Regions from separate parts of the Homo sapiens genome. Here regions 2, 3 and 4 are each linked to region 1. Evidence: fine-mapped expression QTL. A gene starts in region 1. Each other region holds a variant in brackets. All regions are shown on one strand. Distances are between the middles of the regions.

What was found.
Region 2: its variant is fine-mapped to the expression of ADCK1 in cerebellar hemisphere (GTEx, PIP above 0.99). The same link has a PIP of 0.9 or more in breast and spinal cord.
Region 3: its variant is fine-mapped to the expression of ADCK1 in tibial nerve (GTEx, PIP 0.98).
Region 4: its variant is fine-mapped to the expression of ADCK1 in whole blood (INTERVAL, PIP above 0.99).

What each region holds. Positions count from the first base shown.
Region 1 is chr14:77,797,518-77,802,555 of GRCh38, reverse strand. It overlaps ADCK1 (aarF domain containing kinase 1), which reads right to left and starts at 2,447. Exons shown (of 11, transcript NM_020421.4): 1 at 2,386-2,447. RefSeq lists enhancers at 1-450, 1,832-1,911, 1,922-1,971, 2,045-2,583, 2,584-3,122 and a silencer at 2,162-2,521.
Region 2 is chr14:77,906,267-77,911,304 of GRCh38, reverse strand. ADCK1 (aarF domain containing kinase 1) reads right to left here. Exons shown (of 11, transcript NM_020421.4): 7 at 3,386-3,502. Among named protein-coding and RNA genes, the nearest start is that of ADCK1, 110 kb to the right of the region's middle. The variant C/T (reference allele first, on the strand shown) is at 2,865.
Region 3 is chr14:77,896,955-77,901,992 of GRCh38, reverse strand. It overlaps ADCK1 (aarF domain containing kinase 1), which reads right to left. Exons shown (of 11, transcript NM_020421.4): 6 at 2,735-2,893. Among named protein-coding and RNA genes, the nearest start is that of ADCK1, 99 kb to the right of the region's middle. The variant G/A (reference allele first, on the strand shown) is at 2,063.
Region 4 is chr14:77,842,142-77,847,179 of GRCh38, reverse strand. All of the region lies in intron 3 of ADCK1 (aarF domain containing kinase 1), which reads right to left. Among named protein-coding and RNA genes, the nearest start is that of ADCK1, 45 kb to the right of the region's middle. The variant G/A (reference allele first, on the strand shown) is at 2,864.

The DNA of each region.
Region 1 (5,038 bases):
TTGCTGGAACCCGAGAGGCAGAGGCTGCAGTGAGCCAAGATCGTGCCACTGCACTCCAGCCTGGGCGACAGAGCAACACTCTGTCTCAAAAAATAAAAAAAGGAATCCCTGACTGATGCCAAGGTCCCAGAATAGACAACAAAAATAATTCTCACCCAGGCAAGGAATAGAAATCCTCCATTCAGTCCATCCTAGGAAAGGCAGACTGAGGGAGAATAGGGCAAAGCCAGATGCAAAGAGCAAGCAGCAGGTAAGAGAAGAGAGTGAGCTTCCAACGGGAGAGCTACAGTACCAAGCACTTATTAGCTCATTAACTCACACAACCAGATTCCGAGGTGCATGCTATTAGAGCTTCAATCTATGGATAAGGAAGTGGTGTTTTAGAAAAGGTAGAAAACTTGGCCAAGGAGCTGGTAAGTGATGGAGGCAGAACTTGAATCCATGTATGACTGCTCCCACCAAGAGAGCAAAAAGTGCACAAGAACAAGCAGCTTGCTGGGCCCTGAAATAGGCCACTGGAGTCCCTGCAACATGGAAACCTTAACCCAGGAGGCATATTTAGTGAGTTACCCTGGTGAAGAAATGGATGGCTGACCCAACTAAATTTTTTTTTTTTAGACGGAGTCTTGCTCAGTCGCCCAGGCTGGAGTGCAGTGACACGATCTCGGCTCACTGCAGCCTCCGTCTCCCGGGTTCAAGCTGTTCTCCTCCTCAGCCTCCCAAGTAGCTGGGACTACAGGCACACACCACTACGCCCAGGTAATTTTTTTGTATTTTTGGTAGAGATGGGGTTTCACCATGTTGGCCAGGCTGGCATTGAACGCCTGACCTCAAGTGATTCGCCCACCTCAGCCTCCCAAAGTGCTGGGATTACAGGTGTGAGCCACCGCACCCGGCCCCAACTAATATTCTTACAGGTCCTTTGTCTGACAAGAAAATGACTGCATAGCAGAAAGTAAGAATATGCACACTCTTCTAGTACAGATCAAATCGCACATCCCTGAGGCCAGTTGAGAAATGGCCAAGCAAAGAATGACCCAATAAGGTAGAATATGATGTAACCAGGAAAAATGACAAGTATAGACTACATTAAAATCTGTATATAAATTAATATGGAGGGAGTTAACAGTGTACAAAGTAATATGCACATATTTACAATCACCAAAAAAGTAAAACTGGCAAATAAAGACAGAAAGACCCGTAACCAGGTGTGAAGAGATAGTGCTTTAAGTTCACAGGATTTTTTTTCCTATAAAGCAGTGGTACTCAACGTATGGTCCCCAGACCAACAGCAACTGCATCACTTGGGTGCATGTTAGAAACGCCAATTCTTGGTCCTCATACCAGACTTACAGAATCAGAAACTTTGGGGATGGGGTCCAGTACTGTGTGTTGTTACTAGCTCTCCAGGTGACTCTGGTGCATGCTAAAGTTTGAGAACCACTGTAGTAAGAAAATTATTTTATTTATTTTCCTTTTTTTCTTTTAATACAGACGGGAGTCTCACTATGTTGCCCAGCCTGGTGTTGAACTCCTGCCCTCAAGCAATCCTCCCATCTTGGCCTCCCAAAGTGCTGGGATTACAGGCATCAGCCACCACATCCAGCCCCAAGAAAATTATTAAATAAAACATATGAAGCCACAGATAAAGTCTAATTCACTTCAACTCTGCAAATATTTCTTGAGCACCTACTAAGTGCCAAGTATCATGGAGGTAAACAATAAATACTTGTTGAATGACTTTCTTGTTAGTAGAAAGTAAATGCCACTTAACCCTGGGAGAGGGCTGTTCTAGGTGTCTTATCTAAAGGTTGCTCTCCACACACACTGGCTGCTGTTAGCACATATCTACTGTGTGATCTGGAAGCCCAGGGCCCTGCAAGATGCTGGAGATAAGCAGCGGTCTGGGGCACGTTCGCAAGACCGGGTGGAGGGCCAGGATATGGGCATCGCCCCCTGCTCTTGCCCAGACCACGCTCCAGCTCCAGCTGCTTCTGCCTCGGAACTCACAGGGCCACCAGGGGGTGAAGGCGTCTGGGTGAGCCACCTCCGGCCCTCCTCCAGCTCTGCCCACTCGGGTGCCTGCAAGACTGTGCCACTGAAGTGGACAGGTCACATGAAAGCCCACTGGTGTGCCAAACTGGAGAAGTCACTGCAGGGGGGCGGGGCAATGCGAGTCACCCGAGCCACGTGGCCGCGCGCCGGGCCCAGGTGACAAGGTCATGGGGCTGTCCCTCCCGGCGCCCAGGGCGGCTGCACAACCGGAGCAGAGGCCGACTCCCGGCGTGTCCATGCCGGTTCCCTCGCGCTCCAGGCGCGGTGCGGCCCTGCCAGGCTGGTCGGCCCGAGCTCTGCGCCGGCCTCCGGCGAGCTGCCCCTACTCACCCCGAGGGAAGCAGAGCCGCGGCGCCCGGCTTCCGGCCGCAACCCGGTAGCGGGGAATTAGCTGGGAACCGTGCGGGGACAGCCACCTGACTGCGCTTAGTGAAGCCGAGGCGCGCGCGGCCTGCCGGGACTTGTAGTTCCTGGTTCCCCACGCCGCGATCCCGCGGGCAGTACTGTGGAGGCACAGGGGTCTCGGGCTTACTCCGTCAGGTGGCCTTGTTGCTTTGCCAGGGCGACGGACTTGGAATATTACTGAAATATTTTCTTCAAGACATTCTAACTACGTCCCAGGTTCGTGTTTAATGAAAGATGAAGTGGATTTGTAGATTTTTTTTTTTTGAGACTGAGTCTCGCTCTGTCGCCCAAGCAGTACAGCTAATTTTTGTATTTTTTTTAGAGATGGGGTTTCACCATGTTGGCCAAGCCGGTCTCAAACTCCTGACCTCAAATGATCCGCCCGCCCAAAGTGCTGGGATTACAAGAGTGAGCCACTGCGCCCGACCTCGTAGATTTTATTCATTCATTCATTCATTCATTCATTCATTTTGAGACAGAGTCTCACTCTGTCGCCCAAGCTGGAGTGCAGTGGCCCATCTCGCCTCACTGCAACCTCCGCCTCCCGGGTTCAAGTGATTCTCCTGCCTCAGCCTCCTGAGTAGCTGGGATTACAGGAGTGTGCTACCACGCCCTGCTAATTTTTTGTATTTTTAGGAGTGACGGGGTTTCGCCATTTTGCCCAGGCTGGTCTTGAACTCCTGAACTCAGGCAATCCACCCGCCTTGACTTCCCAAAGTGCTGGGATTACAAGCCTGAGCCACCTCACCGGGCCATAGATTTTAAATAAGATATTGGAACTAGTAGGCGAAGAAGAAATTTACTGACAATTGATGTATGCTGGCGGGGCGGTGGCTCACGCCTGTAATCCCAGCAGGCCAAGGCTAGCAGATCACCTGAGGTCGGGAGTTTGAGACCAACCTGACCAACATGGAGAAACCCCGTCCCTACTAATAATAGCAAAAATTAGCCAGGCCTAGTGGTGCATGCCTGTAATCCCAGCTACTCAGGAGGCTGAGGCACTAGAAACCCGGGAGGCAGAAGTTGCGGTGAGCCGAGGTCACGCCATTGCACTCCAGCCTAGGCAACAACAGCGAAACTCCGTCTCAAAAATAATAATAATAATGCTGGCTGGGCAGGACGCAGTAGCTCACACCTGTAATCCCAGCACTTTGGGAGGCTGAGGCGGGCAGATCACCTGAGGCTAGGGGTTGGAGACCAGCCAGGCCGACATAGTGAAACCCCATTTCTACTAAAAATAGAAAAATTAAGCCGGGTGCGGTGGCTCATTCCTGTAATCCCAGCACCTTGGGAGGCCAAGGTGGGCGGACCACTTGAGGCCGGGAATTTGAGACCAGCCTGGCCAACATAGTGAAATCTGTCTCTGCTAAAAATACAAAAATTAGCCTGGTGTGGTGGTGCACGTCTGGAATTTCAGCTACTCAGGAAGCTGAGGCAGGAGAATCGCTTGAACCCGGGAGGCGGAGGTTGCAGTGAGCTGAGATCACGCCACTGCACTCCAGCCTAGGCAACAGAGTGAGACTCTGTCTCCAAAAAGAAAAAAAAGAAAAAGAAAAATTAGCCCAGCATAGTGGCGGGCACCTGTTATCCCAACTACTCGGGAGGCTGAGGTGGGAGAATTGCTTGAACCCAGGAGGTGGAGGTTGCAGTGAGCTGAGATTGGGCCACTGCACTCCAGCCTGGGCAACAGAGCAAGACTCGTCTCAAAATAAATAAATAAATAAATATAATATGCTAGCTAATCTTAGTTATCTTTGGCCCTTATTCATTCATTCACTGATCTCCATTATCAAATGTTGACTTATAAGATGCACTTTGAAGACATGTATCAAAAACATTTCTCTTTTTTTTTTTGAGACAGGGTCTGGCTGTGTTGCCCAAGCTGGAGTGTAGAGGCTCCATCACTGTAGCCTCAACTTCCTGTCCTCAAGGTACCCTCCTGCCTCAGTCTGTGGAGTAGCTGGGACTACAAGCACATACTGCCACGCCTGGCTAAATTTTTTAAATTTTTTCTCAAGAAAAGCTGGGGGGTGTGGTCTCACTATATTGCCCAGGCTGGTCTCGAATTTCTGTGCTAAGCCATCCTCTGGCCTTGGCCTCCCAAAGTGCTGGGATTACAGGTGTGAGCCACCACGCCAGGCCTCAGACGTTTGTTTATTCTATAAACATCTCTTGAGCTATTTTTTTCATGGGGGAATTAATCTATCAGTCCAATGCAGTTCCAATCAAATTTCCAACATAATTTTTTCTGGACCTTCACAAACTAATCAAAAGTGTGTATGAAAAAACAAAGGGCAGCGCAGTGGCTCGTGCCTGTAATCCCAGCACGTTGGGAGGCTAAGGCAGGTGGATCAGTTGAGGTCAGGAGTTCATCACCAGCCTGGCCAACATGGTAAAACCCCATCTCTACTAAAATACAAAAATTAGCCAGGCATGGTGGTGCACACCTGTAATCCCAGCTACTCAGAAGGCTGTGGCAAGAGAATCCTTGAACCCGGGAGACAAATGTTGCAGTGAGCCAAGATCATACCACTGAATTCCAGCCTGGGTGACAGAGCGAGACTTTGTCTCAAAAAAA
Region 2 (5,038 bases), 110 kb before region 1:
GGCAGGGAAATGGAGAAGGTAGAGGGGCAAGGACTTTGGAGTCATGCAGACCTGAGTTCAAACCCTGGTTCTACCCCTGCTAGCTGTGTGATACGGGGCAAGTTGTTTAACCTCTCTGAGCATTTGCTTTCTCATCTGTAAATAGGGTTAATAATATATACTGTATAGGAGAGCTGTAATGAGTAGAGATTATGTGTGTCATATGCCTGGCACATATTAGTTGCTTATAATTATTATTAGTTATTGTTTTTCCCCAAATAACTCTGATATCAGCTTGCCCCATTCTGCATGTCCACAAGAAAACAACCAACACTCTCCCCTAGGCCTGCCTGGTAGAGGCCAATCTAGGGTGTGAGGCTGGTTTGTTTACCCATTCACTAATTTAAGAATGTCTACCAAGGATCTGCTCTGCACAGACCACTGGCTTTATCTACAAGGTATCAAAAGAGCGGGGAGGCAGAAGCAGATGAGACCAGTCCTCAGAGGGTACGCCCTGCCCAGCTCCTACTGCCCAGCTCCAGCCTAGCTGCCCCCTCCGGCCAGGCACAGCACTCAGCCATAAGCAAACAACTACCCAGAGCGCACCTTTCTGTGTTTGCATTTGTTTGGAAAATCAACGTTGCCTCTGATTAAACACCATTACGGCTCTGGGCTCACTGGATCCAAAGAGATTAATGGACTTGAGGGTGTTGCTGGAATGAAAATGCCTCCACAGCTGGTAGTAAGTAAATGCCAGGAACCTGGCGGGGATGAGGCCTCTGGGATATTTCCTGATCAGCAGGCGACAGACCCTGTTTCCCTTTAAGGCCGTTCAGGAAAGGCCAGAGGTGGCCTCCCATCCCATCGAATCCCTTCGCCACTGGAACCAAAGACTGTATTCTGCTTGAACACCTCCCATGTACCACCCTAGAAGCCACCAGTGAAGGCAGCAGAGTCAGAAGCCCTGACTTGTGTTACTGGCCAAGTGACCTCAGGAAAGACATTTGCTCCCTCTCAGAACTTTTCACCCCATCTGTAAAATAGAAGGATGAACTCTTTTTCTCATCCCTTTCCCTCCAAGCAGCAGAACTCTTCCAGAAAAGTCCAATAGGCAGCTCACGCATTGGCAAAGCTGCCCTGGGTAAAACAGAGTGGTATCTGTTTCAGTGTAGCCTGCCCATATCCCACACACCCCAAGGCCCTTGAATGGGTTATTGAAGCACTGTTCCCTAAGTCAGGGGACAACAGCTTTCCTAGAAGGCCTGAGCCAGCCACAGAGAAACGTTCCCACCATGCTCCTGGCAGCAGCTCTGTGCACTTTGATGCGGCCCCTCCTTTGTGGCCTAACAGGAAGAGTGAAATCAGGGAGACTCAGGTCTCAATCCCACCTCTGCTAAGCTGTGTGACCTTCTCTCTCTGAGACTCTGATTCTTTGTCTGCAAAATGGAGACAATGAGACCACCCTCATAAGTTTATTATGGAGAAAAGGGCCTGGCACAGGGAAGTTAGGCATGCAATAAATGCTAATGGTAAAAGGAGAAAGAAAGAACAGAGCCCAAAGATAATATAAGGAAATCAACAACCACCACCCAGCTACTCTTCTGGAATGCTAGCCACACACCAGGCACTGTGCTTAGCACTGTTTGCACCCTAACTCACATAGTCTTCACAGCCCCTCTTAGAGGCAGATACTGACCCCATTTACAGCAGTCACATGGCCACCAGGAGGCCTGTGCAACCACCACACTCCCCTGCCACCCCCCTGGGCTCATCTGCTGAGCCAAGGTATGGCTTTCTCCTGTGGGCCAACTCCCCATTGGGACCACATGCTCACGCTCATCTTCATGCACTGCCTGTGGACATGGGGAGTGGAATAGAAAAGAGCATTCACAGCCAGGCGCGGTGGCTCACGCCTGTAATCCCAGCACTTTGGGAGATCGAGGCAGGCGGATCACCCGAGGTCAGGAGTTCAAGACCAGCCTGACCAATATGGAGAAACCCTGTCTCTACTAAAAATACAAAATTAGCCAGGCATGGTAGCGCATGCCTGTAATCCCAGCTACTTGGGAGGCTGAGGCAGGAGAATCACTTGAACCCAGGAGGCGGAGGTTGCAGTGAGCCAAGATTGCGCCATTGCACTCCAGCCTAGGCAACAAGAGCAAAACTCCGTCTCAGGGAAAAAAAAAAAAAAAAAAAAAGCATTTACCTCCACTGGGCGTGGCCCACTTCCTTCCTTCCATCCCAGAGGGCAGAACATGTTGCTGCACTCCCCAAAACCCTGAAGTGACTCCACAGTGCCTCAAGGTCACACCCAAGACCATTACTTTATCTCCCCACACACCCCAAGGAATCCTGCCCCAGCCCTGCCAAACTTCACCCATTCCCTTCCCCTTCTTGCAAAGCCACTCCCTGGAAAACTCCTACTCATCCTGCTGGGGACACCAACCTGTGGCAGGCCTCAGTGCCTCTTCCTCACTCTCCCTGGGGTTCTCCTCACACCCTCTCGCTGCCTGAGATACAGCAAGGATTTAGATGTGTGTCTGACTCTGATGCTAAGCTCTGGGGACTAGGTCTGGTCCCCCTGCGAGCCCCCATACCTAGCATATAGCAGACACTATTAAAATGATCAATGTTGAGCCTGGCCACGTGGCTCACACCTGTAATGCCAGCACTTTGAGAGGCCAAAGTGGGAGGACTGCTTGAGCCCAGGAGTTCCAGATTACAGTGAACTATGATTGTGCCACTGCACGCCAGTCTAGGCAACAGAGCAAGACCCCATCTCTAAAAACATAAAAATGAAATTATGAATGTTGTTGAAAAAGTACAACTCCACCCATTCCTGTGGGACCCTGTGCAACCAAGAAGCAGAAAGTGAGGGACAGGTC[C/T]TACCCACTGGCCAGTATTCCCTGGGACAAGGGGGATGGGAGGGGGGACACACAAAGCCCACCTCTTTTTTCCTGCTCTAGGAGGCTGATGCAGTTGGTTGCTGCTGTCCCCTTTTTGCCTGATCCCTTGAGATCTGGGAAGTGGGAAGGAGAGAGAAGGGCAGGAAGAGGGAAGAGACAACAGACAGGCCCCACAGAGCCAAAAGGATTAAGTCCCACTGATTTTGCATCATTGTTCTCTGTGGCCGCTTAGCTTTGTGGGGCTCAGATGGTACAAAGGAAAAGCAGGTAATGGCAGAAGGGGTTCAGCATGTCCCTGCAGGCCGCTGTGTGCACAGGGCTGGCCTAAATGACCTGAAAGAATCTTTCTTGCTCAAAGTTTATAATTCTCCAGACAATGGGCCCTATTAAAGACAAGGGGGCCAGACTCTGAGGCCTCACCTGGACACACAGGCACTTCCTGGGCAGCCTTGACCAAGCCCACGTTCCCCGGCACAGCAGCCCTGAGCTCTTGACCTCACCTCATTGACGTCGATCTTGTTCCTCTCCATGTAGTCTCTGTCATTGACCTGCCCGCCATCCACAAACTCCATCAGGAGGACCCGCTCCGTGGACAGGTCCCAGTGGATTCGGGGGACCTGGGATAGGAAGGGACAGGTCAGATGGTCTGGGGAAGCTGGGAATCGGGCAAGGATGACAATGTGGCACAGCGAGCCAGACAGCAACAGAGGCTCCTCCCAGAGCAAGGGAGAAGAGGCCCAGGAGGGACCTCAGCGGTGACAGTGGGGATGGGACAGCCAGGCCAAGAGGGAGGCTGGCTACTCCACCTCTGCTCAGCAGGCCTCCGCCCACTCCTTTAGATACCGGCTTTGCCAACTCTCCTCAGTGCCTTCTAATGCTGTTAAGAGCCAAAACTAAAGTTGGGACTTGGGAGGAAAATGTTGGAACACCTCACACCTGGGCATTGCTGTTAAGGATATTTCCTCTCCCCATCCCGCCACCAGGCCTACTTCGGACTCCTCCCTCTGCCTCCAATATTTCACCCAGGTAATGGGTGCATTGTGTGTATTGAGCAAATGACTGAGTTTTAACCAGATGATAAATTTTGTTTCTCATGCCTGTTTCCTGTAGGAAAACACGTTTCCTGGGGCAGACAACATTGGATATTAACCCAACATCTATTCCCAACCCTCCTCTTCCCTAGAGATGAAAAAAACTAAATACTGGGGCCAGGCGGAGTGGCTCACACCTATAATCCCAGCACTTTGGGAGGCTGGGGCAGGTGGATTGCTTGAGCTCAGAAGTTCAAGACCAGCCTGGGCAACGTGGCGAAACCCTGTCTCTACAGTAAATACAAAAATTAGCCAGGCATAGTGGTGCGTGCCTGTGATCCCAGCTTGGGAGGCTAAGGTGGGAGGATCGCTGTCAAAGCCAGTGTGCTGTGACCTTATACATCACACCACTGCACTCCAGCCTGGGCAACAGAGCAAGATCCTGTCTGAAAACAAACAAACAAATAAAAAACCTAAATACTTTCCTTGCCTGCTTTATAGTAGGTATGGCCATGTGACATAGTTCTGACTTATGAACAAAAATGGAAACCTGCTAGGGGATTCTGGGAAGGTTTTTATTTCCTTGATTTAAAAAAAAGGGGGTATTTGCATAGTGCTACTCTTCTTCCACTTCTCTTCTTGCCTCGAAAGTGAATGTGAATGTGACTGTTGGTGCTGTAGCAGCCATCTTGCAACAATGAGGAAAAATAAAAAAATTTAAAAATCTGAGAAGCCAGCTCTGGTACTGTTAAACCACCAAAACCATATGTCAGTAGGCAACCACTGCAAACCTTCTTGCTATGTGAAGACAACAAATTCTTTTGTTTAAGGCACTCTAAATGAGGCTTTCAGTTGCCTACAGACAAATGCATTACTAACATACACTCTCCAACCCTCTCTGACTCTCATAACACTCAAAAACCAAAAAGAGAACAGATTTCTCCAGGAGCGGGCAAGAGACTAGAATGCAACCAGGCTGCCATGTGAGCAAGGGACACCCACCAGTACCCCCACAGCCAGGAGGGAGGGGTTACTGGGCTTCCAGCATGCCGAGTTTCCCCCAAATTGTGAGGAGTTTATTTCCTCTTACAAATAAAGAAACATGGGCAGCTTTTTCAAATG
Region 3 (5,038 bases), 99 kb before region 1:
TGGCTCTAGAACCTGCACATGGAGCTCCTGAGGGCTTGGTGACCCCTCTCGTGCATTCTCCAGGCCTGGTAAAGAAGAGGGAAGGGTGATCCATCCTAGAGTTGGAAGCTAAGCTCAGTGTAGACAACCAGAAGAGCCCTCCAAGCCCTGCACTGTTGGGATAAAGGGGGTAACCCTGTTTTAATAGGCATACACCTCAGGAAGGACAAATGTGTTGGAAGAACAGTGGTGTAGCATACATCTCTCTCCCCAGTTCCTGTGTGCTCTGAGAGAACACCAGGATGGTCCTTAAAGACCAGCTCCGGCCGGCCGCGGTGGCTCACGCCTATAATCCCAGCACTTTGGGAGGCCGAGGCAGGCGGATCATTTGAGGTCAGGAGTTTGAGACCAGCCTGGCCAAAATGGCAAAACCGTGTCTCTACTAAAAATACAAAAATTAGCCAGGTGTGGTGGCACACACCTGTAGTCCTAGCTACTCAGGAGGCTGAGGCAGGAGAATCGCCTGAACCCGGGAGGTGGAGGTTGCAGTGAGCAGAGATTGCACCACTACGCACCAGCCTGGGTGACAGAGTGAGACTCTGACTCAGAAAAATCATAATAATAAAATAATTAATTAAAAAAAAAAAAAAAGGACCAGCTCCAGGGCCAGGAGCAGTGGCTCACACCTGTAATCTCAGCACTTTGGGAGGCCAAAGTGGGCAAATCATTTGAGGTCGGGAGTTCAAGACTAGCCTGACAACATGGTGAAACCCCATCTCTACTAAAAAAAAAAATACAAATATTAGTAAGGCATGGTGGCACATGCCTATGATCCCAGCTACTTGGGAGACTGAGACAGGAGAATTACTTGAACCCAGGAGGCGGAGACTGCAGTGAGCTGAGATCGCGCCACTGCACTCCAGTCTGGGCAACAGAGCGAGACTCTGTCTCAAAAAAAAAAAAAAAAAGAACACCAACTCTAGTGCCAACTTCTCAGCAGAGCCTGCCCTGACCCAGTAGGCCATGGGAGTCCCTACTTCTGAATCCTCAGAGCATGTAGAAGCCGTACTTCTCATGGGGCACTGACAGCTGCGACTTCATATTATCTGATATTGTTTCCCACATTAAGTGTCTCTTATTACATAGAACAGTTCTGCTATAATACTTGTTTTGAAAACACAAATTTGTTCCAATGCAATTGATATGTTAGGGAATAGTTTGATCATAATGCAAATTTTGGATGTGCTTATGTGTACTATCATCTGCGAGAAACACTGTGAATGCAGAAAGCTGCATCCAGCAGAGCCGTGCCACATTGGAATACACAAAACAAACACACCTCGACATCGCTGCGAGTCGGTGAGTCACCCACATCTGGCCTTACAACTTTCTGTCCCATTTCTTTTTTGTTGTTGTTGTTGTTCCTTGAGACGCAGTCTCGCTCTGTTGCCCAGGCTGCAATGCAATGGCATGATCTCAGCTCACTACAACGTCTGCCTCCTGGGTCCAAGCGATTCTCCTGTCTCAGCCTCCCGAGTAGCTGAGATTACAGGAGTGCACCACCATGCCCAGCTACTTTTTGTATTTTTAGTAGAGACAGGGTTTCACCATGTTGGCCAGGCTGGTCTTGAACTCCTTCCCTCAAGTGATCTGCCCACCTCCGCCTCCCAAAGAACTGCGATTACTGCCATCAGCCACCATGCCCAGCCTCCGTCCCATTTCAAAGGACTCCTCCCACCACCCCACAAAACTAACAAGCAGCAACCCTTCTGATGCCCACTTCCACAGCAGGCTCAAGGTAAAGTGCCATGTGTATTGTGGTCTTATGTATTTCTTAGCCATTTAACATGTGTAAAACTATGCTACTGGTTTTTATTCATTCCTATCTTCTTTTCTTTCCTATATTACTGTATTACTGATGAATTTTCTTTTTTTTTTTTTTTGAGACGGAGTTTCACTCTTGTTGCCCAGACCTGAATGCAGTGGCGTGATCTCAGCTCACTGCAATCTCCACCTCCCGGGTTCAAGTGATTCTCTTGCTTCAGCCTCCCAAACAGCTGAGATTACAGGCACATGCCACCAC[G/A]CCAGGCTAATTTTTATATTTTTAGTAGAGACGAGGTTTCACCATGTTGGCCAGGCTGGTCTCGAACTCCTGACCTCAGGTGATCCACCTGCCTCAGCCTCCCAAAGTGCTGGGATTACAGGTGTGAGCCACTGTGCCCAGCCACTGATGAATTTTTTTGAGTGTTGTGCCCCTAACTCTATTTTCCCCATAAGCTCTGTGGTTTCTCTTATGTGATTTTCCATAACTGCAGTATTTCTAGGGACACATATGTTTTGTTACAGAAGAACCAACTGTATGAGCCAAGGTAAAACACATGTGTTTAAAACAGTCCCAGCGTACAGTAGTGTTAGCTATCAGCATCGCCATCATCATCACCATCCCATGCCTCACAGAGGCAGAGACCACGGCATATAGGTTCTTGGCTAAGGCTCAGTGTCTTGTAGTTGTCGATTATTCAATAAACATCTGTTTAATTGACTAATGGGTCAACAATCACACTTGATATTTCTTTGCAAATTGCCTTCAAGTGATTTAATGCACATCACCAGTGATGTCATTCATCCTCAGTAAGAGGACTCAGGAAGAAGATGTCCCAATTATGTCCTGAAAGGGATGCTCAAGGCAGGGACCCACATACCGCTACACTCTTCCACCAGACCACCATACCCTGCATTGCATCGTCCCACCTACCTTCAAGAAGTCAAAATGCCTGAGCATCTGGGACACCTTCTCAGCATTCCTCCCTTCATTGAGGAAATCCAGCTCCAAAGGCAGGTTCTTCTTGGCTTCATCCACAAGCCACATAAACTCAAACTCTGGGAACAGCTGCTTCACAGCCAGAACGAGCACCTGAAATCCAACAAGCACCCCAGTCATTTGGCCCACAGCATATACCAAGGGACATTCCCTACCTTCCTGCCTGGTTCTCCCCTAGAGTAAGGGAAACTGCTCCCCTGGGGCCCATCCCTCCTCTGAATTCCAGGAGGGAAACATAGTAGGCTCCTGCTCTCCCATAAGCTTGGTACTCTGCACCAAGTCCAAGATGATGATAGCCCAACAGCCAGCATCGGTAACCATGACTACCACTTGCTGAGGGTTCCCCTCGTGCCCAGCACTAACTAAGCACTTATTTTTTATTTTATTTTATTTTTTAAGTTCTGGGATATGTGTGTAGGATGTGCAGGCTTGTTTCATAGGTAAACGTGTGTCATGGTGGTTTACTGCACCTATCAACCCATCACCTAGGTATTAAGCCTGGCATGCATTAGCTCTTTTTCCTAATGCTCTCCCCCACCCCCCAACCGTCGCCCAACAGGCCCCAGGTGTGTTGTTCCCCTCCCTGTGTCCATGTGTTCTCATTGTTCAGTTCCCACTTATAAGTGAGAACAAGCGGTCTTTGGGTTTTTTTGTTCCTGCATTAGTTTGCTGAGGATAATGGCTCCCAGCTTCATCCATGACCCTGCAAAGGACATGATCTCATTCCTTTTTATGGTTGCATAGTATTCCATGGTGTATATCTACCACATTTTCTTTATCCAGTCTCCCATTGATGGGCATTTGGGTTGATTCCACATCTTTGCTACTGCGAATAGTAAACTAAGCACTTTACTTACTACTAAACTTAATCCTTGCAACAACTCTGGGAGGCACACAGATACACATCTTATCATCCCTTTTCTGTTGTTTAGACAAGATGTCACTCTGTAGCCCAGACTGGAATGCAGTGGCGTGATCAATCACAGTTCACTGCAACCTTGACCTCCAAGGCTCAAGTGATCCTCCCACCTCAGCCTCCTGAGTGGCTGGGATTACAGATATGCATCACCATGCCCAGCTAATTTTTTTAATTTTTTTGTAGAGACAGAGTCTCACTGTGTTGCCCAGGTTGGTCTCAAGCTCCTGTCCTCAAGCAGTCCTCCTGCCTCAGCCTACCAAAGTGCTATCCCATTTTATAGATGAGGAATTTGAGGCTCTGAGGGGTTATATGATTTTCAAAAAATCTGCCCAGCAAGGAAGTACCGAGCTAGAATTCCCCCTGGGAATTCCACAGCCAACTCTACAGCCCTTGCTCTGAAACACTTAGCTCAACTGCTGCTGTGGCTGCTCCCCGATCTGTTCTGGTCTGTTCACAAAGCACTGGGAGGGTGCTGCAAATGTAACTGTCATTACTTTATTTCTTAAGTTGAATGTTTGGTGCTTGAACATTTATAATACTATTTTCTATACTTTCTGTACGTCTAAAATGTTTCATAATAAAAAACTAAATTGGAATAAGAAAACAAAGCTGGATAAGACGAGAGGAGACAGAGAGAAGGAATTTGACCACTTGGATGAAAAGCTTTGATTTTTGGCAATTTGACTCCACTGTGGATTCTTGAGTGATGACATGTTAAGAGGGGGTTTTAGAAGATGTATCTGGCATTCAGGGGTCAGTTTAATGATGTGAAATTAAAGAAGAGCCCAGTGATCTGTGCACAGCATACCACAGCCCCTGCCATGAGCAGAGACACAATCCTAAGGCTGCCCCACCACCAGGGCCCTGGATTTGAGATGGGTGCCCAAGTTCCTGGATGATGGCTCTGTAGTGGGTGAGCAAGGGTGATACCAGGGACATAGGAGGTGTTCCAGAATTCTGGGAGGGAAACAGAAGGGCCCTGACCTCCCATAAGCTCTCCTGCTGGCATTCGAAGCCAGGCCTGGGGAGAACATTGACTGATTGACCCAGTAATTCTTAGTATAAATGACAGTCCGAGTTATCTGAGAACAACCATCTCTAACCCTGGCTATAGCAGATGGCAATAAGAACTAACAAGCTGTGGGCCTGTTGGTACCAAAAGACCTTCCCCTTCCCATCTTTCCAGAAAGACTTACTGAGCCCCAGATAAAAGCCTTGTCTCATGCTTCTTTTTGCCCTGTTCTATGATATTTTGCCCAATGCTGTGTTGGCAAAAGAAATCAATCTAAAGCCAGACTATTAACTACAAGGCATTTACA
Region 4 (5,038 bases), 45 kb before region 1:
AGCTCTCTCCTGTGCCATCCCCTGCCCCCAGGCCCTTGCATAGCATCTCCATAATCTCACCACACCACTCTCCTTTTCACCTGCGAAAAATCCTCTCAGCCTGGACCCAAGCCTGCCTCCCTTCACCTCCTCCTAGTCCTGACTTGACCCATTCTCCGTGCCACGCCTCTCCCCTCTCACAAGTGATGTTACTGCCTTCCACAATCCCAGGATGAAGGGCAGAGCAAGGAGTTCCTTTCACCCAGTGTGGCTCAAAATCCTCTTTTTGTCTGAGCCTCTCTTGGAGAAGATGGGGCTTCTGCCCATGCAGCAGCTCCATGGATATGATCAGCTTCTCCGCTTCGGGTCCACAGAAGAAAAAGCAGGGGAGCAACCCTAGACATGGCCAGGTTGCAACCAAACGAGTCTGGGACCCAGTGAGAGACCCAGAGCAACAGAGCTTTCCAATGTCAGGGACAATGACTTGACCGTTCCCCAGTGGGAAGGCCTCCTTCCCACCAGCCCCCACTCTGCCCTTTCTCAGCAGGGATCAGCTGGGCAGATCACTAGAGGGTCTCTGTTGGAGGATCCAGAACAGGGGTTTTTCCCAAAAACCAGTCAGGATATGGAATCACAGATGATTCACTCAATGAGAGCCACCTGCCCATCACAAGACACCCAGAAAGCCCTCCACAGTCCTGTCTTGAATCATGCAGGGGTCAGCTCAAAGCCCCATCACACCAGGCCTGGCTTCCAGGACAGTCATGGACTCCGACTGCTTCTCAAGGCTTCCCTGGGTCCCCCTCAGGGTCACCCAAAGGGAACTGTTACCCAGGGTCCTGCATGGCTGGATTAAGATGGGGAGAGGACCATAGCATAGCTTTGGGTCTAGGCTTTGACTAGGCCCTGCTTTCTAAGCCTATAGGAGAGGCAGCTGTGAGAAGACGGGGGTGGCACCAGCTGGCTATTGAAGTCCAGTCTAAGAACGAGGTTCAGGGTAGGTGGGAGAAGATACACTGGCTTAGGGGAGCAGAGATGGTCGGAAGGAGATACTATAGTGATGTTCTGGTCAGAGGAGCAACTAAGCAAAATGGCCAAGAGAGGCCCCATGTGGCAGCTGGTTCTTGGGGAACCACAGCCAAGCCTCCAGAGCTGCATCACACACCCAAACCAAAATGAACTTCTGGAGTGTGAAGTACGATAGCAAAAGCTGCCCCAGAGCCACAGGTAGTTACAGATCCAGCACCATCTCACACCTGGTTATTAGTACTGTGGGACTTTTCATTATGAAATTGCAAATTCCAGGAGCACTTCAAACCCAAATGATTCCAGAGCATACCATGGAAAAGAAAGAGAAGCAGGTATTTCTGACAGGCAACTCTGAGGGATACTGCAGAGGGAGTGAGCAGGGGATGATTTTGTGTCTGTGTCCACCAAGAATCTAGAAAGATAAAGCAATTTAAAAAGGAACATTTTGGCCAGGTGCGGTGGCTCATGCCTGTAATCCCAGCACTTTGAGAGGCCGAGGTGGGCAGATCACTTGAGGCCAGGAACTCGAGACCAACCTGGTCAACATGGTGAAACCTCATCTCTACTAAAAATACAAAAATGAGCCGGGTGTGGTGATGCATGTGCCTGTAGTCCCAGCTACTCAGGAGGCTGGGGCAGGAAAACTGTTTGAACCCGGGAGATGGAGGTTGCAAGGAGCTGAGATTGTGCCACTGCACTCCAGCCTAGGTGACAGAGCAAGACCCAGTCTCAACAAAAAGGAAGAAAAAAAAAGGAACATTTTAATTGAGCTACTATCATGGATTAAGTATTTACTATGTGTTAGGCCCTACTCTGAACCCTTTATACATGTATTTTCTCATTTATGGTAGGCATAATTATTATCCTCTCTTTTAAAGATGAAGTTAAGGCTCAGAAAGGTTAAATGGCTTGGCTAAGGCCACACAGCTTATTAGTGGCAGAGCTGGGATCTGAATCCCGGCAGTCTAACTCCAAGACCATAATGAAATACCTCTTAGAATACCAGTATAATTCAGAAGAAAAAGTTTTGAATCAAGACTCAAGGGACCTGGATTCTGGGACAATTCTGCCAATTACTGCCCCTACTTATGCAATCCTGAACAAATCATCTCAGCTTGTTGGGCCTCAGCTCATCTGTAAATTGAGAAGTTGAGCAGGGTCAGGAATAGGAAGTGAGTGCATATGCGCCTCTCCTCTGTTACTGTGCCCGTGGCACACATCAGACATCACTAATCAACCACAGCACGCACTCTGAGTCCAGGTGACGACTTGCCTATTCTCCAACCTGCACTCAGACAACCACTACTAATCAAGTGGAGTTTGCAAATGAAATGTCTTTGCTTTCCCAGAGCTAGATGTTTCTAAGGTGTCTTCTGACTCTTAAAAACCTATAACTGTTACTGGGGTTCTAAAGACAAAATTTTAATTCTAGCCCCAACTCCAAGTAGATTATTGTCTCTATGCCTCAGTCTTCCTTCTGCAAGATGGACAGTCTGTCACACCATCATCTATGTGGTCAGCTCCATTTTCTCCCCTGTCCCAATGAACTACACTCCAGGCCAACGCCCAATCTGAGTTACACAGACCGAGTCTGCTCTTGGTGGACCTGACGGGGCCGGCTCCCCACACTGCCTCTCTAAGGGAGTCCAACAGGGGGGAGAGCTAAGACCAACGCCACTGACATGATAGGATGAAGGGACACCGGTTCCTTTGCATTGAGCACTGTTTCCAGAAGGTTCCAGTCAAAATAAGAATCTTCCCTAGAGGTGGTAACATAAGAAATTATGATCAGGCCAGGCGTGGTGGCTCACATCTGTAATCCCAGCACTTTGGGAGGTCGAGGTGGTTGGAACAC[G/A]TGGTCAGGAGATCAAGATCATCCTGGCCAACATGGTGAAACCCTGTCTCTAGTAATATACAAAAATAATTCACCGGGCATGGTGGTGTGCGCTTGTAGTCCCAGCTACTTGGGAAGTTGAAGCACAAGAATTGCTTGAACCCAATTGCTTGAACCTCCAGGCAGAGGTTGCAGTAAGGGGAGATCACATCACTGCACTCCAGCCTGAGCAACAGAGTGAGACTCTGTCTCCAGAAAAAAAAAAGAAAAAAAGAAATTATGATCAGTCATTCACATCCTGGCAGGAGTTTCTTTACCTGTCTCTTTCCAGCCAGAGCAACTAACCTAGAGCAGATTTCTATGAAATGGGACAGTTTCCAAATGTAAGTTCTGTTTCAGAGAAGCCCATCCTAAAAGGAAGGTGGCAGATGGGGGTATCTGGAGAGGGCAGTTGCTAGTGGCTAAGAAAGCTTAATGAATAAAACATACAACACAGCTGCCAAGGATACTTGCATTTTAATAGAGAACAGAGTTTAAGCGAAAGGAATTACTTTCTAATGGTGGAATTACAAGCATCAATAATGATTTAGGGAAGAATTAAGCAAAGAAAGTTGTTCCAGCATCCCTGAAATCCCAACAAATGAGCTGATGTGACTGTGCAAGCCCTCAGCAAACAGCAAATGGGCTGCAAATTTAAGGGATTAATAATATTATTACTGGCAACTTGTGACTCTGCCTGCCAGTGAGCAAGCCTGCCATCACACAGACAAACCCAGATGCCCACAGGAGCCCAGGACATGTACTCTTTGGTCTGGAAAGCATCCATTTGGGAACCCAGTTGCCAGAAAAGCTGAAGAGGACCCTTCCCTCCATCTGCCCCTTAATCACACACACTGAGAAGATGCATAATTAATTTGTTCTCAACAGTTGTTCAGCGGCTAGAAGAGTGAGGGCATCTCTGGAATGGCAATTACAGTCAAGAAAAACAAGTGTTAGGCCGCGAGCAGAATGCAGCAGCCAGCCTGCTTCCCTTCCCCACCATGCTTGCTCAGGCCACAGGCCTGAATGTGGGACAGGAGTCTTTTTCATTTCCTCAAAGCCTGGGGCTCTTGGGGGCTGGTGGGAAAGAATAGAAAACAAAACTCTGGCTAGACAAGGTTACTCACGCCTGTGATCCCAGCATTTTGAGATTCTGAGATGGGAGAATCACTTGAAGCCAGGAGTTTGAGACCAGCCTGGGCAACTTAGTAAGACCCCATGTCTACAAAAAAAATTTTTTAATTAGTTAGGAGTAGTGGCACACACCTGTGATCCCAGCTACTCAGGAGGCTGAGGCAGGAGAATCACTTGAACCCAGGAGGTGGAGGATGCAGTGAGCCATGTTTCAGCCACAGCATTCCAGCCTGGATGACAGAAAAAGACCTAGTCTTAAAAAAAAAAAAAAAGAAAGAAAGAAAAGAAAAGAAAAGAAAAAGAAAAAATACCCTCGACCAGGCACAATGGCTCACACCTGTAAACCCAGCACTTTGGGAGGCCAAGGCAGGTGGATCACTTGAGGTCAGCAGTTCAAGACAAGCCTGGCCAACATGGTGAAACCTGTCTCTACTAAAAATACAAAAATTAGCTGGGCGTGGTGGTGCATGCCTGTAATCCCAGCTGCTCTGGAGGCTGAGGCAGGAGATTTGCTTGAACCCAGGAGACGGAGATTGCAAGATTGTGCCACTGCACTCCAGCCTGGGTGACAGAGTGAGACTCCATCACAAACAAACAAAAAAAAATAGAAAGGAAGGAAGGGAGGAAGGGAAGGAGGGAGGGAGGAAATGAAGGAAGGAAGGAAGGAAGGAAGGAAGGAAGGAAGGAAGGAAGGAAGGAAGGAAGGAAGGAAGGAAAAAAAAATACCCTGAAAGATACAGGGAAGAAGGCCTCACTCTAACCTCAGAGAGACAGCTAAAATAGGCACAAAGCTCAGGGACAATGTGAAGACCAACAGGCAGCACATTTGGCGGACAAGTGAACACACATAGAAATTAGATGAAATTAAAGAACTCCTGTTAATATCATTAGCTGAGATAATCACATGATAACTTAGAAAAATATCAGTTTTTAGAGATGCACACTGAAATTACAGGTGACATGCCATGATTTCTATAATTTGCTTAAATTTGTCAGCAAAAAAAATAATAATAATAATGAAAG